Homo sapiens: one gene and its partners. The protein of the gene in region 7 purifies or fractionates together with the protein of the main gene of each other region. This does not show direct contact. Each region holds a gene or a part of one and is shown on either strand. Other genes may lie near its edges. The genes, in order: PLS3, UACA, FLII, ETFA, WDR1, ACTR2 and SH3BGRL.

Region 1 (3,500 bases), about 34 Mb from region 7:
CGCCTGTAATCCCAACACTTTGGGAGGCCGAGGTGGGTGGTCATGAGGTTAGGAGATCAAGACCATCCTGGCTAACACAGTGAAACCCCGTCTCTACTAAAAATACAAAAAATTAGCAGGGCATGGTGGTGGGCACCTGTAGTCCCTGCTACTCGGGAGGCTGAGGCAGGAGAATCGCATGAACCCGGAGGCGGAGGTTGCAGTGAGCTGAGATCGCGCCACTGCACTCCAGCCTGGACGACACAGTGAGACTCCGTTTCAAAAAAAAAAAAAAAAAAAGAATAAATTAAACGATAAACAGGTTTCTGAGCTAAGCGAAGAAGCTTCTTCAACCTGAAACATGGCTAGAATCCTTCACATTCACAATGAAAAACAATAAAAGGAGTGTTTTTCCAATACCATTAAATAAAACACAAAAAACCCCACTAATTTCTAAAATCTTGCCAGCCTGGGCAACATGGGGAAATCCCATCTCTACTAAAAAACAAACTACAAAAAAAAGTTAGCCAGGCATGGTAGTACACGCCTGTAATCCCAGCTACTCGGGAGGCTGAGGCACGGAGATCGCTTGAGCCCCGGGAAGTCAAGGTTGCAGTGAGCTGAGATCGCACAGTTGCACTCCAGCCTGGGCGACAAAGCAAGACTCTGTCCAAAAAAAAAAAAAAAAAAAGGAAGGTAGGAAGGTACTCAAATTAGAGAAAAAGAGGTAGATATAGATGCCTGACAAAAATCATCTAAGGCAACATTAATCAACCTGTAAATGAAAATACTTATTGAGCACCTACCATATGCTAGTTGCTTTATAAGTGTTCTCATATAATAATTATGAGAACAAAGTGAAAAGTGAGTGTATTATCTTCATTTTATTCATGGGGTAACTGAGGTTCAGAGAGTTAAGAAACCTCCTCAATGCCACAGAGATATAAAATGGGAGAGCTGGCCCAGGCGCGGTGGCTCATGCCTGTAATCCCAGCACTTTGGGAGGCCAACGCAGGTGGATCACGAGGTCAAGAGTTCAAGACCAGCCTGGCCAAGACGGTGAAACCCCATCTCTACTAAAAATACAAAAATTAGCCGGGCACAGTGGCAGGAGCCTATAATCCCAGCTACTCACAAGGCTGAGGCAGGAGAATCGCTTGAACCTGGGGGATGGAGGTTGCAGTGAGCCGAGATTGTGCCACTGTACTCCAGCCTGGGCGACAAGGTGAGGCTCTGTCTCTAAACAAATAAATAAATAATAAAATGCGAGAGCTATTGGAACCCATACTTTATGCTAAAATCCATTCTGACTGTGCAACATAGCATGTAAATGATGCCCCTGAAAAGAAAAGAAAGGTAGTGAGAATGTGTTGTTGGGTGAAAGGAACCTTCCAAGTCACTTCTGGGTCATAATAGAATTCCCAGACCAATAAAGTCTTTGGTGAGTGAGGCTAGTGAACTGGAGGAAAGAGAAAAACACCATGGAAGGGTCTGTGAAATGGCATGGGTTAAGTTTCAGGAGGGATATGTAATGTACAATGAGCCATTTAAATACACAAAATATTTGTAAATTCAAGTGCTTGTAATTTAAGCAATCGCCATATACTGAAACCAGGCACAAATTAAGTGACAGCATCAGAATTTTTACTATTATTGGACCTATGTTTAGTTATATTATTTAAGCAACCTGAATGAAATGTAAAACTCTGAGTTTAACTGTAGTTTATTGAGTGATATCAAAGTACTTTAAGAAACTAATAGCCTTGAGATAAAAGGGCATATCAGCAAATAGTCATTTAGCCAACACCAGGATTAAATGTTTCTTTAGGATACTGAATGTTCATAGGCACAAATAAGCTTTGTATACTTGAACTGAGTTTTATAATAATATTAAACATAAAGGCTTCTTAAAAACAAACGTGTCTCCCTTCCCCCATTAACAGTTCCGTTTCAAAAAACAGAACTTCCTATGATTGTACACAGCACAGAATCCTACCTCATCCTGCTCTGCACCTGCTAACTAGATCAGAGAAAACCAAAATACTTCCAAGACATATACTTTACCTAAACAAGTTCCAGTTTAGAGTCACATATGATACAATACACTATATAAAGAATGGCCTTTTCTTTTTTCTTCTTCTTTTTTTTTTTTTTTTTTTGAAACGGAGTCGTGCTCTGTTGCCCGGGCTGGAGTGCAGTGGTGCAATCTTGGCTCACTGCAACCTTCACCTCCTGGGTTCAAGCGATTCTCCTGCCTTAGCCTCCCAAGTAGCTGGGATTACAGGCGTGCGCCACCATGCTCAGCTAGTTTTTTTGTATTTTTAGTAGAGACGGAGTTTTGCCATGTTGGCCAGGCTGGTCTTGAACTCCTGACCTCAAGTGATCTGCCTGCCTTGGCCTTCCAAAGTATTGGGATTACAGGCCTGAGCCACCATGCCCAGCCTTCTTTTTTTAAATGCCACTGAAATCAAGGCTATCTTTTTGTTTAAGCCAATGTTTAAATTTCAGGGACTATCAAAGGAATTCATCTTTAAAACATTCTTGGTGACTTCTAAAAAATGATAGAGTGCAAAATGATGTTCGATCAAGAATGCTTACTGAAGCATTATCTGTAAGATATGGAAACAAATGTTCAACAACTTGGAATTAGTGAAATAAATTATGAAACAGCCATTATATAAAATATACTGCAGTGATTTTAAACATTTTTAAAAATATTTGATCACTTGGAAACATGTTTATAATGTAATAAATGAAAAGAATGGGATATAGTGTTATTCCAATTTTTAAAAATTTCTCTTCCTACATATAAAATAAACATAAAAATATGAGCATTTAAAATTATAGTTACCTTGAATTTTTCTAATCCAAAGCAAAGTGATTGAAAACATCTTTAAAGTACACACTACACAAGACACTTTCCCAGTAGATTAATTCATACATGTTGAATAGTATAGCAATAGGATGTGCTCTAGGGACAATTTCGTATCATTTTCACCTCTGAGCAAACTCTTTGCACCCTATAATGGTGATTCTTCCTGATCTGAAACACAAGCCCCAAAATGTTAAAATGAACAACAAGAAATGGCAAAAATGGGAACATTCAAGCAAGTTAAGAAATATAGAAAAAAAGCTTGAAAATTACATTCATCTATGAATGAAAGCGTTATTTTCAGTGTCAACAGCAGAATGTCAATCTGAGTGCAACACGATGTAATTAGAGCTTATAATGTGGAACACAATAATATGAATATTCAAAACTATTATACGGCCCTAACAAATTTTATTTTACAGAAAGTAAAAACTTATATTATATATCACGTAAAACTTTATATAATATACATATGCACACATAAGTGTATATATACTCGTGTGTGTATGAATATCACAACTCAAGGGAATCAGACTTGTATTTTCAATGAACTGGACAGAGTATGAATGGGCGACAGAGTGAGAACCTGACTCAAAAAAAAAAAAAAAAAAAAGAAGAAGAAAAGAAAAGAAAATCCAAGTTAATAGCT
Region 2 (3,500 bases), on a different chromosome or scaffold from region 7:
TTATAAATAGCTTAAACACTACATGTAGAAAACTGCTTTATTAAATGAAACTTAAATAAATGGAATCTCATACACCAACAAAAATCATACTATAGAAAAACTATTTTTGAGGGAAAGGCCTTCAAAATAGGTTACATAAAAAAGTAAGCTACAATTCAGATTTACAGTGAATTCAATTTAATGGGAAAAGACTAGAAGGATATTTCTCAAAATGTTAACAGAGGCTTCTCAGTGGTAATGAGTGACTATTCATTGTGCTTTTCTGTATGTTCCTGTTTTTTTTAAAAAAAACATAAAAAATCATGGCATAGGCATTTGGTAAATATCAGCTGACTATTTTACATACATGTTTAAACAATGATTCTTTAAAACTTCGTAAGTATAAAAAGTTGGGAGGTTCACCCCTCTTCATCAAAAAAAAAAAAAAACTTAGTAAAACACTTGACTCTTCCTTCTCAGTTCTGAAGTTATTCCAGTGTCTTAGTGTTCACTGGATAAACTAGATTATATATGCAACACACACTGCCTCAAAGCAAGTGACCATAATGTAAGTAAGCAAATCCATGTTGTAGAGGGAGATGAACCAATACTGTTTATCAGTAAGGAATGTTTTGCTTCTTATAAACTGTAGTTCTACTACCTAAGTCTTTTAAAAAGTGGCTCTTTGTTAATGTGGACTTTTCTAGTTACAGAAAACTGCTGATACCTTTGTTGGTATTTTCCGATGCAGTCTTCAACAAGGTTAGAATGTCCAGATTGTCACCAATTCTTGCATAGTAAGAACTATCATGGCCAAGCGCATCCAGCAAGCTTATATCAGCACCATTTTTAATTAAGACTTCTACTGCATCTCTGCAACCATATTCGCAACCTAGCATGAGGGCAGTTCTAAATGGAAAAATGGAAGAGCAAAAGACTGAGAAAACTCCAAGGAAATATTGCAGAAATATTCTGCCCTATTGTTGAACACTGTCTTAGTGTTCACTGGATAAACTAGATTATATATGCAACACACACTGCCTCAAAGCAAGTGACTATAATGTAAGTAAGCAAATCCATGTTGTAGAGGGAGATGAACCAATACTGTTTATCAGTAAGGAATGTTTTGCTTCTTATAAACTGTAGTTCTACTTGAACACTAAGTTCAAGTAAGTGTTCAACACTACTTGAACACTTACTTGAACACTAAGACATGCTCCCTTCTTGAAGAATAGACACTACTTTAAGAAGTCATGCCTGTTACAGATATAGATTTTACTTTATATTCATTGCATTTATAAAAACATTTGCTTTGTCTTCTATATCCTTATATCCTTTAATTACTTCTACTACCAAACCAACCTCATTTATTCCACTTCTTCAATGTCCTACACGTAAATAATCACCACAAAAATTTTCCACAACTGATACTGTCACCCCATGTGATCAAAACCCAACTTTTTCAGTCCCTTCATGAACTGAACCACATCATGCAAACCTCCCCTAAGAATCCCTTCTCCTCCAAGAGAAGTATCAGATTCCATTCCTGATGTTCCTGCTTAGAAGAACCTTGATTCTTCTACCTGAAGACCTTCACATCTTCAGACTACAACTAACGCCATGCAACATGGATCATTGCTTTATTCTATTGCAATAGAACCACTGGCACTCAAACATCTCACAGTACATCAGCAAATACTAATCATGCAACAAAATAATTGTCATGAAAATCTAGAAGGACCCTAGAAATTATTTTGTCTAATCCTCTATTTTTTAGGATGGGGCTAACCAACACGTAATGAAATGAAATGACATATCCTATATCTAACTCTGTCTTCAATTGTGAATATTGGATCTCTTAAGGAAACTGACTCTTGCCTTTTCTCTGCTATGTATGCTGTGTTTCTCATATTCAAGCCTTGTCCCCCAACTCCCCTGTAGTTGCTGATAAGAAATTCTGTACAAAACAGGCATTAACAAAGTTTTTGTTATTTAAAAAATGCTACATATAAAACAGGAAAAAAAGAAATGAATATAGAGTATTAGAAACTAAGGTTATAAATTATGTTGAAAACCATATGCTATTTAGTCTATACAATATACACTGCCCTGCTTCATTGGCTTTTTGTGAATGCCCAATGAAAAAACATAGATAAAGTGCTTTGAAAAATGTGAGAGCTATAAAAAATATAAAGCACTGTATGTAGATCAACCAGATTATCCCTCTGTGATCCTAAAATTAAATTTAACTTTTTTTTTTTTGAGACAAGAGTCTCGCTCTGTTGCCAGCGCAGTGGCATGATCTCAGCTCACTGCAACCTCCGCCTCCTGGGTTCAAGGAATTCTCCTGCCTCAGCCTCCTGAGTAGCTGGGATTACAGGCACGCACCACCACACCTAGCTAATTTTTGTATTTTTGGTAGAGATGTGGTTTCGCCATGTTGGCCAGGCTGGTCTTGAACTCCTGACCTCAAGTGATCCGCGCCCAGCCGTAAAATTTAATTTTAAAATCCAATTTTCTTCATCATGCTTGGAATCAGATGATAGTATCCACAAAAACAAAGTAATATTAAAAAGCCACTTCTTAATCACATCTTTTTTTTTTTTTTTTAATATTTAAAGAGGTTTATTCTGAGCCAAATGTTAGCAACCATGGCCCATGACACAGCCTCAGGAGGTCCTGAGAATGGGTGCCGGAGGTGGTTGAGTTACAACTTGGTTTTATACATTTTAGGGAGACAAAAGTTACAGGCAAAGGTATAAATCAATACATATAAGGTATACATTGGTTTAGCTCAGAATGTCAGGACATTTCAAAGTAGGGGCTTCCAAGTCAAAGATTTCCTGATTGGGAATTGATTGAAAGCATTAAGCTTTGTCTGGAGAATTGAAGTCAATATAAAGAAATGCTTGAGTTAAGATAAGGGGAGTTGTAGAAGCCAGGGTTCTTTTTTTTTTTTTTTTTTTTTTTATACTTTAAGTTTTAGGGTACATGTGCACAATGTGCAGGTTAGTTACATATGTATACATGCATCATGCTGGTGTGCTGCACCCATTAACTCGTCATTTAGCATTAGGTACAGAATTTCCTCCTTTGAGATGCATAAAGAAAACAATTACAGCTATAAAATCTGACAACTAAAGACTATTTTTTATACTTTTATACTTCTAATAAACTACAAACAATAGAATACATGTTTGGAAGAATAAAATTAAGTCAAAAGAAACCAAAATTTTTACTAGTAACTACAAAAATCCCAGAAATTTTAGTTTAATTTATTGTAATACTTGAATTAAATGGAAGGGGTGTGTTTCAGATACTTTGTGACCATAAACTTCAGAATTGTAATACAACAAGCACCATGATACATTAGACCTACAGACAGAGATAGGGAGAATTCTGGATAGAAATTATTAGAGCACACCAACTAAAATAGTATCAAATACAGAAGCAAAAATAAAGCAAGGGACCTCTGCAGTACAGAAATGGACAGGTTCAGAGTAGGAGATGGCACTGTACCC
Region 3 (3,500 bases), on a different chromosome or scaffold from region 7:
AGTCATCAGCGAGGCTCACACCCCTTTCCTTCACACAAAAGACCCCACGGTGTCCTTGTACCTGGCCTTGGTGGTGCTGCTCAGTGTGGCCTGGGCCCCCCGCCATACGTAGATGTCTAGCCCTCGGTCCAGCAGGAAAACAAACCTGGACAAGAAGGGGCAGGAAGGAGCTGTGATGGTGCATGGGGCAATGGTCACCCCATGCTCCTGACCCCACCAAAAAAAATCCCTCACTATGGGGTTTCTGGGTAAGCCCCAGGGACCCCCCGCCAAGCTCGTGGGCAGGAATTGCTAGAGGGCCTCCTCTTCTAAGAGGCCCACACCTGCCCCCACTGGTGGGGAGGAGGCTGAGGATGAAGCACCCCCACCTCACATTGTTGGGGCTCACCTTGGGTCCAGAGAGGTCCCCTTGAGGGGCACAGGCTCCAACTTGATGTTCTTTTTCCCATACACACGATACATCCTGGGCGCAGGGCAAGAGTGGCTCAGTGTAGGCACCAAGGGCCTAACTTAGCCCCAACACCCTCCCCTCCACCCCTTGCCAGCAGACTCCAGGTCCATACCCCCCACTGCCCACACACCCTCACCTGGTGACATAGTGTGTGTCTTCCACAGTGTAGAAGCCACTGGCTGTTCCACCCTCAATGTAGGAGATGTCGTTGTCAAACACCTGTGTGTGTGAGGGTGTGGTTCTTCATCACTGAGCTGCCCCCTCCCCCACCAACCACTGCCCCTCAGGTGGGGGTACAGAGTTGCATACAGGTGAATTGAGTGCTACAAATCTATGATGCCTGTAATCCCAGCACTTCAGGAGTCTGAGGTGGGTGGATCACCTGAGGTCAGGAGTTGGAGACCAGCCTGACCAACATGGAGAAACCCTGTCTCTACTAAAAATACATAAATTAGCCAGGCGTGGTGGTGCATGCCTGTAATCCCAGCTACTCGGGAGGCTGAGGCAGGAGAATTGTTTGAACCTGGGAGGCGGAGGTTGCAGTGAGCTGAGATTGTGCCATTGTACTCCAGCCTGGGCAACAACAGCAAAACTCTGTCTTAAAACAAACAAACAAACAAACAAACAACAACAAAAAAAACAGATCTGGCTGGGCACGGTGGCTCATGCCTGTAATCTTAGTACTTTGGGAGGCCAAGGCGGGTGGATCACCTAAGGTCAGGAGTTCGAGACCAGCCTGGCCAACATGGCAAAACCCCATCACTACTAAAAAAATACAAAAATTAGCTAGGCGTGGTAGCACATGCCTGTAATCCCAGCTACTTGGGAGGCTGAGGCAGGAGAATCGCTTGAACCCTGGGGGCGGAGGTTGCAGTGAGCCAAGATTGTGCCACTGCACTCCAGCCTGGGCAACAAAGCGAGAGTCTGTCTAAAATAAAACATACACATCTGTGTCTATAAACATACACACGTCGGGGTGTTGGGATGTATGAAAAATATGGACACGTTCACCCACGTTTGTAAAGATGCCAGCAGCATGTTTAGATGCACGCATATCAGGGTACACAAGCAAGTGGGTTCATGGAAGAGTGGAAACCTGGGTGAATGTGGGTAAAAAAAACTCGGGGCGGGTGGGGTGTGTGCATAAACTCCACGTGTGTGTACATGCGAACATATGTCTAGGTGTAACCAGCTGGCGGCTAACACTGCTCAGTAATTTATTCAAGACTGGACTCTGGTCCCGCCCTTGGCCCCACCTCCTTGGCATCCAGGTGTGTCCTTGCCTCCTAATAACAGGTTTTGGCCCTGCCTTCTCACTGCTCTTGGCAACACCCCTTCCACCCTACTCTCAGCTCCCCTGTGTCAGCCCACTGGTCTAGCTCCCATGCCCAGCCTGTACCCTTATCCTTGCCCGGCTGAATTCTGCCCCGCGTTCCAGAACTCTCCTTTGCTGACCCAGGCTTTGGCCACCTTAGACCTCACCCTGCGGTCTGCCTTAGGTCCCGCACAGTATCGTTGATCCACCCCCTTTAACCCCAGCTCCCTGCCTGCCCACCTGTTCTGCCTACCTGCCTTGGGCCCACTGCCCCTGCACCAGAGTTCCCTGGGAACCCCACTCTGCCCACCCCCAATTTTAACGGGCTGGCACCTGCAGGAACTCCTCGCTCTCATCGCCCATCTCCTCCCGGACAGTGCGGCACTCAGCACCCAGGTAGTTGCGCAAGTTGACAGCGTGGATGGCAGAGCAAGCTTTCTTGTCGAGTGTGGCCTCCCCGCCAATCCAGTAGTAGATCTCCCAGTTGAGGGAGCCGCTGTCATCCAGAAAGGTCTGGAAGCCAAGGCACCGGCCACATCAGCTTTCATCCTGGTCTTCCGGCCACCCCGGAGACGCCACTCTGAACAGCACAGGCTTCCCAGCCCCAGGGGCTTTGTACTGCCCCTGTGCCTGGACCACCTCCTGCAGCCTGCCCACCTCCCACCTGGCCTCCCTGAACAAAACTCTGGAGTTGGGGACTGAGCCATCTTAGAGGAAGGTACTGGGCCACATGGCCCCTAACAGCATGCCCAGCCCTCACCTTGAGCACAATGTAGCAGTCAGCCTCGTAGAACTTGCCGTGGAAGGCTTCCTCCACCAGCACAGGCACGAAGTTCTCTATCTGCCAGATGGTCAGTCCGGGCAGCTGGCCCACGTCCTCCGTGAAGAACTCGGAGTAGTCAAGGCGGGGCTTCTCCAGGCCCTGGTCCCAACGCCGCACCTTCCCGCTGGGGGCCCGGGCATCTGCGCTCTCCTGGGGGCAGAGTCACAGAGCACGGCTTGACTCTGTGAAGCCACTCAGGCCAGTCTTTACTTGCTACCCACACCTCAGGGCCTTTGCACAGCTGTTCTTTCTGCCCAGCACCCCCCGTCCCTCTTGGCCAGGGTCAAGGCCAGGGTCGGCCTTCAGCAGAAGCTAAGGCTCCCTGCCTTGTCCCAACCCTGGCCTGGCTCACCTCCTGCTTTTTGTTCTTCTCCTGGGCAACATCTGACATGCCCTTCAGCACCTGCTTGGCCTGGTCATCCTGGGCTGAATCCTTGCGCCTCCGCAGTCGCATCTTGCGAGCCATAGGGTCCTTGGGCCCACTCCCTGCTTAGGGGAGGGGCAAACAGCTGAGCCCTCACTGGGCCTGCTGCCCCCTTGGGCATGCGACCAACCAGGGGCCAACTCCACCCACCAGGGTCCAGAAAGCTGTATGCCACCCAATTTACAGATGTGTCATTTGAGGCCTGGAGAGGAGCCCCCGTTCCCAGGCCAGACCTTTCCCCACTCACCAGCTGCAGCTGCAGCCACGGTAGCAGGAGAGGCACCCGCTAGCCGCAGCTGGTTCTGCAGCGAGAAGTCGATGTTGTACCACTCAGCGGCACGGTCTGCGGGCTTGGGCGGCATGACCAGGTTGGGGTTCTCCCGCACATCCAGGACCTGCCCCATAGGGTGAGCAGAGCCGGCACTGAGCCTGGGTCCTACCTCCCAGACACACCAATCCAGTTTCTTGCTCTTGTCTGCAGCCGCCA
Region 4 (3,500 bases), on a different chromosome or scaffold from region 7:
GTGTTCCCCGTGCATCATATTAGCAGGTACTTAATGTTGGTTTATCCCATTAGTGGTAATGCTGACTTTAGTTACTTAGCCAAAGTGTTGTTTGCCAGGTTTCTCCACTGTCAAGTTAATACTCCTCCTTTTGTAATTTTTAACTAATTTGTGAGGCGATTCATTGAGACTATGTGACTGTCCTATTTCTCATCAGACTTTTACCCAGTCTTAGCATCTGTTGATGATTTTTGCCTGAGAAATGATTACTATGATGCAAAATGGTGATTTTCTATTTCCATGATACCTTCGTACATTTTTTAGTTATTCTACTATAAGGAAGAACATTATCTTCTTGCATATTTATGGATTTATGGATACATGGATCCTTATTTAGGATAATACATTTCTACCTTATGCTGAAGTTGTCTCATGTTTGTAAAGTGGGGCCCATTCAATCTGACTCCTGTTTGTTTACATATATATGTTTGTGATATCACAAAGTCAAAATAGCTTATCTCAAGTCCCCACTCTTGAAATTAAAAAAAAAATGTTCTGTAGCTAACCATTAATGCATTTAGGAAGAGGATACATTTCCAAAACCATATTTAAAAAAATAAAGTTAGGAATTACAGTTAAAAGATTACCATAAACTGTTAACGATGTGCATATAGTTAACACTTAACACTTAAAAATGGTTAAGATGGGGCCAACCATGGTGGCTGACACCTGTAATCCCAGCACTTTGGGAGGCTGAGGCAGATGGATCACCTGAGCTCAGGAGTTCGAGACCAGCCTGCGCAACATGGCGAAACCCCATCTCTACCAAAAAAAAAATTAGCCAGGCGCCATGGTTCACACCTGTAGTCCCAGCTACTTGGGAGGCTGAGGCACGAGACTTGCTTGAACCTGGGCATTTGAGGCTGCATTGAGCCCAGGTAGCACCACTGCCCTCCGGCCTGGGCAACAGAGTGAGACGCTGTTTCAAAAAAAAAAAAAAAGGTTAAGATGGTAAATTTTATGTATTCTTTTAAACCACTTTGTTAAACTATTAGGATATAAGTTCAATGACTTGCATTTGGTATCTAAGTTCCATTTTTAGTTCTGACTGATTTGTGCCATTGAGTAAAGTCTTTCATCCTTATGTGTGTGGCAATGGTCTTTAAAGTCATCTGTTAACAAAGATAGTTTTTATATCTATAATAAAGAGCTAGAGAACACACCAAGAGGCAAATAGGTAGGCATTTGCAGTTAGTTAATATTCTTGCAGGGATATTAATCCTAATTATTGTTATTTATTAATTTGCTCTTGAAATTGATTTATTGAAGAATAAGAAGATGCAGAAAAATATTTATGTGGTGAGTGAAACAACAATTTCAAGGTCATTTGAGTACTCTTTTTACTGTGTTTATTGTCAGGTGGGAAGGAATATCTATCAGGACTGAGAAGCTATGAAACTGGTGTGAAGGAACATGACACTTTTCTGTCTAGTATTGATGAATAAGATTGAACTCTGTAATTTGCATGCAAATTTTAATTTCTATTGAAAGAAGAAAGAGAGCCAATTTTGGTGTGATTCTAAAAGAAAATTTATTGCATAAGGTGAATTCAGTAAAATTATGATGCCTGCCAATGTGTCTACTAAGAGTCTTGTCCTTTCTTAAAGTGAAGTAAATTGACTGTGTTTTTAGTATTACAGTCAATGTCATATAACATTTCTGGTCATGATTAAAAGCTGCTATATTTTATTACTAAAAGGATTAAAGGAAGTATTTAAAGTACAGAAATATACATTTTAAAAATTACAAAATGTATGTTAAAATAGGGATAGGTGACTTTATATATTATCCTTTTGGGTATGACTCAGAAAGATTTTATAGCTTATTCTTGCTGTTTTTCTTTTTTTAATTAAGAAGCAAAAAAACCGGCTGGGTGCAGTGGCTCATGTCTGTAATCCCAGCACTTTGGGAGGCTGAGGTGGGTGGATCACGAGGTCAGGAGTTTGAGATTAGCCTGACCAACATGGTGAAACCCGTCTCTACTAAAAATACAAAAATTAGCTGGGTGTGGTGGTGCGTGCCTGTAATCCCAGCTACTTAGGAGGCTGAGGCAGGAGAATTGCTTGAACCCAGGAGGCGGAGGTTGGAGTGAGCTGAGATCGCGCCACTGCACTGCAGTCTGGGCGACTGAGCGAGACTCTGTCTCAAAAAAAAAAAAAAAAAGAAGCAAAAAAACCCTCCCCTGCCCTCTATACCCTCATTACACCTAGTTTCCAAAGATGGTTGGGGTGGAGGTATAGGTTACAATCATTCTTACTACTTTAGGTTATGAGTGGGTTTGTAAGGGTAGAGAGTTAGATTCCAGCTTTTTTTCTTCTTCTACCATCTGTGGTACTTTACTATGTGAATATACAGTTCAAGTCACAGCAAGAACTCTAAAAAACTGACAAGCAAAAACAATGTCAAAAATGAGGCTGATGCTGGGCACAGTGTCATGTGCCTGTAGTCACAGCTACTCATGTGGCTGAGGCAGGAGGATCACTTGAGTCCAGGAGACCAGCCTGAGCAACATAGCAAGCAAGACCCAGTCTCAAACAAATACCCACCCCCACAAGAAAAAAAAAAAAACAACTATTGAGGTTGAAAAAGAGAAGGACCAAAATGTGTTCATTGGACTTAGCCATAATGAAGTTTTTGGTGACTTTGGAAAGATTGGATTCAGTGTTGTGAAGGTGAAAGCCAGTTTGCATGAGTAACTGAAAAAATGGAAGGTGAGGTAATAAGAGTTGGTGTCTGTGGAAATTATTTTCAAGAAATTTAGCTTTGAAAGGGTGCAGAGAGGGTGATAACCTCTTTAAATCCTGCCCACAAGAAGTATACTATCTTATAAAGGCCAGTCAACTTTATATGGGTATGTGGCTGGCATGAGAAAGAAAACTTCATATTTTGCTATTTGCAACCAAGTCTAAACAGAGTATAGAGAACTTCTCTAAAAGCATGATGGTGTGTCTGTTTTAGTGATGTAACAGTTTATGTACTGTTTAGTTACCCTTATACATGTTTAGTTGATTACATTATCAATGAGGAAACAGTTGCTTTTTAGTTTTTGATAATTTTAAGAAAAGTTTTCATTTAGTTACTATTCATTGAGTGCCAACTGTGTGCCAGAGAGGTAGATACCAAGTTCACAGTGGAGAACAAGACAGACCTAGTCCCTGCCCTTGTGATGCAAACAGATTAAGGAAGAAACACATTATTTTAAGTGTGGTCATTGTTACAGAACATAGAGGGTGTTTGGGAGAGGTTTAATCTTGTTAGAGGACTGGAAAACACTGAAAGGATATCTGTGAAATTATGTTTGCACACTGAGGTGCCTTAAACTATTGTTACTGAGTGATAAAGTAATAGAGCGGAGGATTTTCTTTCTTTCTTTCTTTCTTTTTTTTTTTTGAGACAGAGTCTCACTGTTGCCCAGGCTGGAGTGCAGTGGCGCCATCTCGACTCACTGCAGCCTCTGCTGC
Region 5 (3,500 bases), on a different chromosome or scaffold from region 7:
AGGCCCCAGGAGTCCCCATCTCCCAGGCAACACGACTTAGGCAGGACTACCGGGTGACAAAGGGGTCTACACAAGAAATGTAGGGCCAGAGGAGGGGTCAGACCTGGGCATGGGGACACTGGATGTGCAGTGGCCTCGTCAGGTCCTGGAACATTTCTCTTTCAAGTCCCTCCAACTGCATTTAGGACTTCAGATCACTTGCAAACTGCTACTCTCCTAGCTCCACTGACTGCCAATCAAAGGCCCAAGACCAAAAACAAACAAGACATTGTCTTTTAACCAGATCACTGTGTGCCCATCTCACCCTTGAGCAGAAGGGGAATGCTGTCTTGTACTCAGCACCTGCCCTGTGCCAGGCTCACCTAATCCACAACAGCCTGAGGCAGGCTCCACTGTACCCGCCTTTACTGATGAGGAAAGGGACACAGGGAGAGACCGCAGCAGGTTCCTGGAGAACAGGGCTGTGATCTGCTGCCCCTGCTTCCAGGGCAGAGTCCACACCTGGTCGTTGTCTGTGGGCAAGAGCATTACCCAGACCACCTGGATCTGTAACACAGTGCTGGGCTCAGGGCCCAACAACAGGAGAACAATGCTGGGGACGGGGTGGGAGAGATGAAAGGAGCAAGTGAGGCGTCCTCCAGAACAGTAACTGCTGGAGGGCACAAGCCCTCCGAGGGGAGCTGAGGCTCATCCGGAACCCCCGCAGACCCGAGTGCTCTCACCTGTAGTCCCGCAGCATGAGGCTGGTGTACCGCACGGTGTCGTCCATGCTGCAGCTGATGAGCTGCCCCGACTCATCCACGGTCATCCTGGACACCTGGTTCGTGTGGCCTTTCCCAGCGAAGGAGTCGTTCTCCCCCGTCTCTGAATCCCAGTAATGTAGGGTGGGGTTAAGGAAAAGCCCGGCTCCCAGGACTGCTGGGTGTTCTCAGGTGTGGCTTCAGTCCTAAGATTCTCCATTTACATCAAGAATGAGAATCTCGCCGCAAACGGACATAACCATTCCCCCTGGGAAGCCTGCAGTGTCCACTGTTGACACGTTCTTAGGAAGGGGTATCTGAAGTGTGGGTGCACCACACAGGGATTGGGATGAGGCAGAAAGGGAGCCGTGCTGAAGGCCTACTGGGGACCAGCAAGCTGGGGAGGCTCCGGCGTCTCCTCTGCTACTAGTTATCGGGTAGGCGCAACCCTCTAACCCCACATTTCTTTATGTTTTGGGGGCAGAGGGTGGCATGTCTGCCCTCCTCTCCCAGCCTGGGGGGACCTCCTTGGGTCCCGGACAGTCCCTTTGGGAGGTACAGCACATGCGGACCAGAGCTGTCCACACAAAAGGCAGTCTCCAACACAGCACGGTGCTCAGGGAGGGCAGCAGAACAACGCACAGCAGGTGCCATCATCAGCAACGTGTGTGGGCATCCCTGCCCAGGCACTCTGCAGATGGTGGCTCCAAGGTTCAAGACACACCCGTGAGCAGGGTGTCACCAGCCCCAGGCCATGCAGGAAAAACACAACAGAAGCCCCCATCATCAGGGAGAAACCAGGACTCATTTAAAGAAACCCAGACAAGGACTTATAAGGGGGACACAAACACCTCCAGGGAACATCACCGAAGGGCCACAAGGCACCTCGCAGGAGCTCCAGCCCTGGCTCTGTGGACCACAGGCTGCATGACTCTGGGGCGGGCACATCAGCTCTCTGGGCTCTGGTTTTCCTATTTTTAAAACAAGGGGACCCAACGTAAGGGTGTCCAGGTGCTTGTGAATTCTAGGAATCAAGAAACCCACCATGTGGAGTAGGGCCAAGGCTGGCGCCAGGTGCCATTGGCAGAGGTAGTGGCAGCCCAAGCTCAGGGCCGTTAAGCCACACTCTCAGGGTTGCACGACAAGAAGGGACTGATCAGGTCGGAGCCGCCCATGGCTTTTCCTCAGCATAAGCCCTGGAGTTGCCAAGGACAACTCCAGGGGACAGTTGCCTGTCCCCATGTACAGACAGGCCACCCCTAGAAGCCACACGGGTCAGAAGAGCGTGTGGCTGTGGCTGCAGCTGGAGCCACCTGGCTGGCCTGGCCTCTGGCATCATGGGAACAGGAAATTCCCCCCTAGAGCCAGCGGCTCCGGAGCCAGCTCTTTGAGTCAAAGGATATTAATGTGTCCGTCGTGGCTCCCAGAGTAAATGTAGGACTTGCCGCCGTTTTTATGCACCGTCAGACACTGGATCGATTTACTGTGACCCTGTGAAGGAGACACACTGGGCGGGTAAGCTGATGACACACTGCCCTGCCCTCTGCCACCCGCTTTCCACCAACGAAGCTTCTGGGTAATGGAGGGGGCAGACGCCCCTCAATCCATGGCAGTGCAGGTGCTCTGAGGCCCCAGTAGCCCCAGCTGCCCGAATGCACGGCCCACGAGCCCTAAGAAACCTTTCCAAAGCTACCCAGTCACCTACAGACCCTGCCCTTCATTCCCCTCCCTCCAAGGTACCTAACCCAGACCTGGGCCCAGACCTGCGTCTAACCAAGGCCCAGCACGTCAGCACCTGAGCACCTAACGTGTGCAGACACGTGGCCTGCACCCCGCCGACCAGCACCCGTCGCGGGGAGCCACAAGGGGGTCGGTCCAGGAGGACTTCGCTGGCCACATTCGCTTCAGGCCCTGGTTTGTGAGGTTTCTTCTCTCTCCCTGCCCAGGAGTGCTGGCCCTGCTGAGGGCAGGGGTCTCTCTGATCACTGTAAAAGCCCAAGGCTGTCCGTGAACGCTGACGCTCCTACCCTAACCTCCCTGACTGCTGCAGTGGAGGGCACACAAGGCTGGTCCACAACCAGACAGCTGCTTCCAGAGGGCGGCGTTTAGCCCCCTCCATATCTGAGCCTGAGACAAAAATAACAGCTAGGGTGCAGGCTCCTCATGCCTTTCTCCTGCAAAGGGAGGCCAGCTCCTGGCTGGCCCCTCTCCTCTGAGCTCAGGGCTTTTCCGCAGGAATTCTTGATCTCTGTGGTATGCCACATGTTGCCACAATATGGCATAGATCTTTGGATGCAGGTCTCCTTGGAGACAGGTACACAGTTACCAGTGGGACTGGAGAATGGGCAACGAATGCAGCTACTTTCATCTTTTCCACAGAGACGTGGGGAAAAATCATCACATGCCCCAGTAAGAGACACTGAGCTGGGCGGCCTCCTTCCAATGTGGCATCCCACCAGTCCCTTACAGCGCGGACCTCAGACCAGCACAGCCCCCACCAGCAGGGCTCAGGCCCACCTTCCTGCCAAATCAGAACGTGCACTCGGCAAGAGGCCAAGAGACTTGTGTGCAGGCTCAATGCCTTGAACTTACCAGAAACACTCCTAGCCATGCCCAGATGCCCACGGGTGTTCCTTCTGGAGGCCTGCAAGCTCCTGCTGCCCTGAGACTTCCCTGTAAACTTAGTGCCTCTGGGGGCGTCAGCAGCCAGCGCTTTTTAGAGCTCCCAGGTGGTTCTAACACGCAGCCTGGGCTGATACC
Region 6 (3,500 bases), on a different chromosome or scaffold from region 7:
TACTTATGAATTGTTAATTCTTTTACCCTCTCTGAAACTGAAATATAAATCCTTTTATGGCGGATAAAATCCTGCTTCTGAAATAGTAGGAGCTGAGGATCCACTGCCCATTCTGTTTGTTATTGATGTGACATATTTAATGAGCATTACTAGCTTTTGCAGAGTAGAACTCATTCAGATGTATTATGAACTTATTGCTATTGTTTTGTACCAGCTACTTCTGTTGCGAGGATACGCCTTCAACCACTCTGCTGATTTTGAAACGGTTCGCATGATTAAAGAAAAACTGTGTTACGTGGGATATAATATTGAGCAAGAGCAGAAACTGGCCTTAGAAACCACAGTATTAGTTGAATCTTATACAGTAAGTGTTTCCAGTGTATAATATATATGTGTTTTAAAGTGGACAGCCATGATTATTGGTGTCAGCTTAAGGAGGTTTTCTTAGAATCAGTATTTTTGTCTTGGGTTGTTGTAATATGTATATGTGTGACTTTTAATGTCTCTTTCTACATTAAGTTTCTATTTAATTATTTTAGGGCACCATATAATGCAAATTAAGGCAAGAATCATAAATTACTCTCTATACTAGGATATAATTAGATGCGAGATGTTATTTTGAGATTCTAGTATTTGGCATAGCATTTCTCAATGTATGTTTTACAGAACTTTATTTCCCTGAGATGCTAATAAGCATTTCACAAAAATTAAAAAGGATTACATTGTCAGATGAGTTTGAGAAAGAGTTGATTTCACTTCACTGTAGAACTCAGAGCCTTTGGTATGCTAATATGGGCACAATTAATATAGTATGCGTGTTTTTCAGACTTATGCTCTAGGACTTTTCAGAATTTCATGGGATTAGTGATCTAAGAAACATACTTTGGAAATGGTCATTCTAGAGCATTGCTTTACTAATTCAGTAGGTGGCAGCCTTTCCTGACTTAATATTCTTTAATGAGGTGTTAAATGTTAACTTGAAATTGTAACTAATGAGATTTAGTACCTGGTTATAGTTTATAACACCAGAGGAGTTGATCCTACTTGAATTTTTAATGAATTACCATCTTAAGCCTATTAAATTTGTCTGAGTATAAAGTACTTCCAGGTCTCATCTTTGATCTAGTTATTACTAAAATGAAACAGTAATAGGCAATGAAGGCAAGTATTTTAAAACCATATGATGCATACTAGCTCTACATATTCACAAATATATGCAAAATAGTCATTTTTAAAGTAATTATAAAAAATTTGTTGTTGGCCGGGCGCGGTGGCTCACGCCTGTAATCCCAGCACTTTGGGAGGCCGAGGCAGGCGGATCACCTGAAGTCAGGAGTTGGAGAACAGCCTGGCCAACATGGTGAAACCCGTCTTTACTGAAAATACAAAAAATTAGCTGGGCAAGGTGGTGGGCACCTGTAGTCCCAGCTATTCAGGAGGCTGAGGCAGGAGAATTGCTTCAACCCAGGAGGCAGAGGTTGCAGTGAGCTGAGATCGTGCCACTGCACTCCAGCCTGGGTGACAGAGCAAGACTCCATGTCGGTAAAAAAAAAAAAAAAAAAAAAGTTAAGATAGTGATCCAAATATTCAGTAAACCCCCATTTAAAATTTTTTTAAATTTATTTTTTATTATACTTTAAGTTCTGGGATACATGTGCAGAAAATGCAGGTTTGTTACATAGGTACACATGTGCCATGGTGGTTTGCTGCACCCATCAACCTGTCATCTGCATTAGATATTTCTCCTAATGCTATACCTCCCTCCCCTTGCCGCCCCCCACCCAACAGGCCCCATGTGTGTTGTTCCCCTCCCTGTGCCCATATGTTCTCATTGTCAGCTCCCACTTATGAATGAGAACATTTGGTGTTTGGTTTTCTGTTCCTGTGTTAATTTGCTGAGAATGATGGTTTCCAGCTTCACCCATGCCCCTGTAAAGGACATGAACTCATTCATTTTTTTATGGCTGCATAGTATTCCATGGTGTATATGTGCCACATTTTCTTTATCCAGTCTAACGTTGATGGGCATTTGGGTTGGTTCCAAGTCTTTGCTATTGTGAATAGTGCTGCAGTAAACATATGTGTGCATGTGTCTTTATAGTAGCATGATTTATAATCCTTTGGGTATATACCCAGTAATGGGATCGCTGGGTCAAATGGTATTTCTAGTTCTAGATCCTTGAGGAATCACCACATTGTCTTCCACAATGGTTGAACTAATTTACACTCCCACCAACAGTGTAAAAGCGTTCCTATTTCTCCATATCCTCTCCAGCATCTGTTGTTTCCTGACTTTTTAAGGATCGCCATTCTAACTGGCATGAGATTTTGTGGTTTTGATTTGTATTTCTCTAATGACCAGCGATGATGAGCTTTTTTTCTTATGTTTATTGGCCACATAAATGTCTTCTTTTGAAAAGTGTCTGTTCGTATCCTTTGCCCACTTTTTCATGGGGTTATTTGTCTTTTTCTGGTAAATTTGTTTAAGTTCCTTGTAGATTCTGGTTATTAAGGCTTTGTCAGATGGATAGATTGCAAAAATTTTTTCCCATTCTGTAGGTTGCCTGTTCACTCTGATGATAGTTTCTTTTGCTATGCAAGAAGCTCTTTAGTTTAATTAGAACCCATTTGTCAATTTTGGCTTTTGTTGCAATTGCTTTTGGTGTTTTAGTCATGAAGTCTTTGCCCATGCCTATGTCCTGAATGGTATTGGCTAGGTTTTCTTCTAGGAGTAAACCCATTTTGTAACTTAATCATCTCCAGATTTGCTCTGGAGATTCCTTCCTGAAGTCTTCTTGACAGTTTCTCTAGTTGTCTGATTTTCCATCTACCTGACTATTTTGGAAGAAAGTGGCTGGCACAGGGCAAAAGATAAGCAAACTAGGAATGTAAAACATGTTTTATTTCTTCCTTCTCTCTTTTCTCAAAGAATTTGAGGTAGGCTACAAAAATATATACAAATAGGCTGGGTGTAGTGGCTCACACCGGTAATCCCAGCACTTTGGGAGGCTGAGATACGAGGATCACTTGAGGCCAGGAGTTCATGGCCAGCCTGGGCAATATAATGAGACCCTGTCTCTACAAAAAAAATACAAAAATTTGCCAGGCGTAGTGGCACGTGCCTGTAGTCCTAGCTAGTTGAGAGGTTGAGGTGGGAAGATTGCTTGAGCCCAGGAGTTCAAGGCTCAAGTTTTGAGGCAGAGAGCTAGGATTGCACCACTGCACTCCAGCCTGGGTGAAGGAGCGAGACCCTGTCTCAAAAACAAAACAAAATCCATATATATATTTGATATATATATGCACACACACACATATACACAAGTATAAAGTAATAAGCTGATGAATAAGTGAGGAGGGACATGGGTGGACAAATACAGAACAGGATAAGATTTGGTGCAAAGAAATGGGATGCCTGCAGTTTTAACAGTTCATTAAGGTGATTAGAAAACTTGACCCCATGCTGGCCAGCAGCCAGAGAATGGAGAGAAGCCACACTATCA
Region 7 (3,500 bases):
GGTCAGATAGTTAACCAGCAGCTTCTCTCTTAATCTGTTTACTTGTATCAGTAAGAAATGAAATACAAAATTCAACCTTGATAATTCCATTAAAGCAGGAAATGTTTTTGTAAATGATACTTGGTTAATTGCACAATATATATTTCATAAAAGATTTTAAAGATTAGCTACAGAGAACATTCAATCTGATTGACATTTGAGGTTTATTTATTTTTTCCCTAGGCTAACCCTGGTGGAGGGTTTATTGATCAAAACCCTTCCTCAACAAAGTAACTAGTCTTTGTGCTAGAAATAAGTCCATTTTATCTTTCTCTTCTACCAAATAATGATTTTTTTTTTTGAGACGGTGTCTCGCTCTGTCACCCAGATTGGAGTGCAGTGGCACGATCTCGGCTCACTGCAACCTCTGCCTTCCGGGTTCAGGCCATTCTCCTGCCTCAGCCTCCCAAGTAGCTGGGACTACAGGTGCCCGCCACCACGCCCGGCTATTTTTTTGTTTTTGTATTTTTAGTAGAGACGGGGTCTCACCGTGTTAGCCAGGCTGGTCTTGAACTCCTGACCTCGTGATCCGCCTAGCTCGGCCTCCCAAAGTGCTGGGATTACAGATGTGAGCCACCGTGCCCGGCCCAGATAATTAATCTTTTACTAAACTTTCACAATATATTCTTCCCTACAACCATGTAACATTTAAGCATCTTTTTAAATGCCCAAGAATCACCATCACTGATCACTGATCAGCCTCTTTTTGGGCCAAATTCTTCCAATGTTTCTGTGAAATTTAGGAAATCAGCCATCAAATACTAAGCATCAATTTGAAAGCACTGATCTTGAGTCTCCACATTTGCCATGTGAAAGCTGCCATTTTCCACTGTTAGGGACCTCCAAAAAGTATGTCCCAGTCATTTGGTGAACAGTTTCTAATTTTAGTCTTCTAAGTGAACATCTTCTATGAACACCTTTAAACAACATTCAAACAAACTTTGGAAGATATGACAAAAATCCTTGCATACACAAAATCAATGTTTAATGTATAAATACAGACAGAGCAGCAAAACATTCTGCGCCTAAAGTACAATTATTTGAGAACCACATAATGAAGAACTGTGTCTTGCTCTTCTATATTATCCAGATGAAGAAAATACTGTGACTAGTGACTAATTACACAATCCAGAACATTGTTTTATCTGTTGTTATAAATTGTGCAGAGTACAACCATAGAGAAAAATTATGTATATTTGTGAACAATCCAAGCTACAACTAGCTTCTGTTTTATCAGTTATATAAAATACATCAATTTTTAAAAGTTACTTCACAATTAAAACCCTAAGAAATCATCTATTTCCCACAATCTTAAAATTTCTACACCAAGGCACAAATAGAATGCATAGATGCCATGAAATGGAGATCATTATGGGTCTTGGGGAAATATGTATAGGGAAAAAACTCCCAAACCAGTTAAAATTCTCCAAGCTATCATCTCTCTAGCAATTCTCATCCTAGGCCAATGTTGATTTTTGTTAAGAAGTTATTGCAATTTATTAACTTATATAGGCTCTGAGATTACTATTCATTTTCCATTAAATGTAAATTTACAAGGCATTACAATCTCAAGAAACAAAACGTGGCATATACCTGTGTCACAGTGAGTTAAGACATGTATAAACAATTCTGAACAGGCAGAAATCACTTCATATAGACAGACTACTTGGAAGCTGCATTCTTGTTAAATGGTTCCCATCAAACTAAACAGTATTAAGGCCTGAATTTTATACCTTGACCTATACCAGACCAGTTTAGGCTTTCCAACTGTGTAGGTCTTCTCTATCTTCTTGGCCTTGGGTGAACAGTCACTTACCCTACTTACAGACATTCCCTTTTAGACACAATATCCCTCCTACACACTAGCTGCCCATTTCTCTATTCCCCTATATGCACATGCCCAGGCAACTCTTCTTCCACTTACAGGACTTACTTCCTCCCCTACCTCTTACTCGTGTTCAAATTTATTTCCTCATGCCTACTAGTTGCCATAAATCACTGGGAGGATGCATTTCTTGGTGGTTAAGTACATATTCTTTGGATTCAAACATCTTGCTTGGATTCAAGCTCTATGGCTTACCAACTGTGTAACCTTGAGAAAGTTATTTACTCTTTGAACCTGTATACTGTATTTCCTTCTCTGAAAAACAGAGATAATCATAGTGCTTAATTCAAAGGATTATTTTTAAAAATGAGATAGTATCTGACATACTTAGGGGCTTCTACTGACTATCATTATTATGGTTACCATCAAGAAGTCCATTACATTGGTCTGGGCAAAGATTTTTTGGGTAAAACCTCAAAAACAGGCAATGAAAGTAAAAATAGACAAATGGAACTATATTAAGCTAAAAAGCTTCTGCACAGCAAAGGAAACAATCAATAGAGTAAGGAGAAACCTAAAAATGGGAGGAAATATTTTCCAACTATCCATCTGACAAGAGATTAATATGTGGAATATATAAGGAAGTCAGTAGCAAAAAAGAAACCCACAAAAAAACAAATAATCCAATTTTTTTAAATGGCAAATGATTTCAATAAACATTTCACAAAAGAAGACATACAAATCGCAAACAGGTATAAGAAAAAATGTTCCGCATCACTAACCATCAGGAAAATGCAAATCAAAACTATAATGAGATAACATCTCACTCCAATTAAAATGGCTATTACCAAAAAGATAACAAATGCTGGTAAGGGCACTGAGAAAGCGGAATACTAGTACACTTTTGCTGGGAATGTAAATTAGTACAGCTGCTATGGAAAACAGCACAGAGATTTCTCAAAAAAACAAAAATAGAACTACCACATGATCTAGAGCTGCCATGGAAAACAGCATAGAGGTTCCTCAAAAAACAAAAATAGAACTATCACATGATTTAGCAATCTCACTTTTGGGTATATATCCAAAAGAAAGGATATCAGTATATCAAAGAAATATCTGCACTCCCATGTTTATTAAAGAACTATTCAAAATAACTATGATATGTGGCTAAGTGTCCATCAACGGTGAATGAATAAAGGAAATGTGATATATATATATATATATATATATATACACACACACACACACACATATATATACACACACTTATATATACACACATATATATACACACACAAAATAAAATATTATTCAGCCATAAAAATGATATTCTGTTATTTGTGACAACATGGATGAGCCTGGAGGACATTATTTTAAGTGAACTAAGACATAACACAGAAAGACAAAAGACATACCACACGTTCTCACCCATGTGGGAGCTAAAAAAGTCGATCCCATGAAGATATTGGGTAGAATGGATGGTGGTTACCAGAGGCTGAGAAGGGTAGGGGGAAAGAAGGATTAAGAGAGGTTGGTTAATGAGTACACAAATACAGTTAGATAGAAGGAATAAGATCCACTGTTCAATTGCACAATAGGGTGGCTATAGTTACCAATATAATTTACTGTATAGCTA

What was found.
Region 1: the proteins of SH3BGRL (region 7) and PLS3 purify together in Homo sapiens (affinity purification with mass spectrometry; one large-scale study listed by BioGRID and IntAct). This does not show direct contact.
Region 2: the proteins of SH3BGRL (region 7) and UACA purify together in Homo sapiens (affinity purification with mass spectrometry; one large-scale study listed by BioGRID and IntAct). This does not show direct contact.
Region 3: the proteins of SH3BGRL (region 7) and FLII purify together in Homo sapiens (affinity purification with mass spectrometry; one large-scale study listed by BioGRID and IntAct). This does not show direct contact.
Region 4: the proteins of SH3BGRL (region 7) and ETFA fractionate together in Homo sapiens (co-fractionation; one large-scale study listed by BioGRID). This does not show direct contact.
Region 5: the proteins of SH3BGRL (region 7) and WDR1 purify together in Homo sapiens (affinity purification with mass spectrometry; one large-scale study listed by BioGRID and IntAct). This does not show direct contact.
Region 6: the proteins of SH3BGRL (region 7) and ACTR2 purify together in Homo sapiens (affinity purification with mass spectrometry; one large-scale study listed by BioGRID and IntAct). This does not show direct contact.

The regions. Positions count from the first base shown.
Region 1 is NC_000023.11:115,567,674-115,571,173, reverse strand, and holds part of PLS3 (plastin-3), read right to left. Parts: intron 1-3,500. UniProt on the Homo sapiens protein: Actin-bundling protein.
Region 2 is NC_000015.10:70,683,559-70,687,058, forward strand, and holds part of UACA (uveal autoantigen with coiled-coil domains and ankyrin repeats), read right to left. Parts: intron 889-3,500; coding exon 707-888; intron 1-706. UniProt on the Homo sapiens protein: Regulates APAF1 expression and plays an important role in the regulation of stress-induced apoptosis. Promotes apoptosis by regulating three pathways, apoptosome up-regulation, LGALS3/galectin-3 down-regulation and NF-kappa-B inactivation.
Region 3 is NC_000017.11:18,248,739-18,252,238, forward strand, and holds part of FLII (protein flightless-1 homolog), read right to left. Parts: intron 3,409-3,500; coding exon 3,261-3,408; intron 3,079-3,260; coding exon 2,942-3,078; intron 2,740-2,941; coding exon 2,527-2,739; intron 2,280-2,526; coding exon 2,100-2,279; intron 671-2,099; coding exon 588-670; intron 464-587; coding exon 389-463; intron 146-388; coding exon 62-145; intron 1-61. UniProt on the Homo sapiens protein: Is a regulator of actin polymerization, required for proper myofibril organization and regulation of the length of sarcomeric thin filaments. It also plays a role in the assembly of cardiomyocyte cell adhesion complexes.
Region 4 is NC_000015.10:76,304,970-76,308,469, reverse strand, and holds part of ETFA (electron transfer flavoprotein subunit alpha, mitochondrial), read left to right. Parts: intron 1-3,500. UniProt on the Homo sapiens protein: Heterodimeric electron transfer flavoprotein that accepts electrons from several mitochondrial dehydrogenases, including acyl-CoA dehydrogenases, glutaryl-CoA and sarcosine dehydrogenase.
Region 5 is NC_000004.12:10,082,300-10,085,799, forward strand, and holds part of WDR1 (WD repeat-containing protein 1), read right to left. Parts: intron 2,232-3,500; coding exon 2,144-2,231; intron 880-2,143; coding exon 723-879; intron 1-722.
Region 6 is NC_000002.12:65,255,331-65,258,830, forward strand, and holds part of ACTR2 (actin-related protein 2), read left to right. Parts: intron 1-214; coding exon 215-364; intron 365-3,500. UniProt on the Homo sapiens protein: ATP-binding component of the Arp2/3 complex, a multiprotein complex that mediates actin polymerization upon stimulation by nucleation-promoting factor (NPF).
Region 7 is NC_000023.11:81,205,102-81,208,601, reverse strand, and holds part of SH3BGRL (adapter SH3BGRL), read right to left. Parts: intron 1-3,500. UniProt on the Homo sapiens protein: Appears to function as an adapter protein that bridges proteins together or proteins with mRNAs. May function as a ubiquitin ligase-substrate adapter.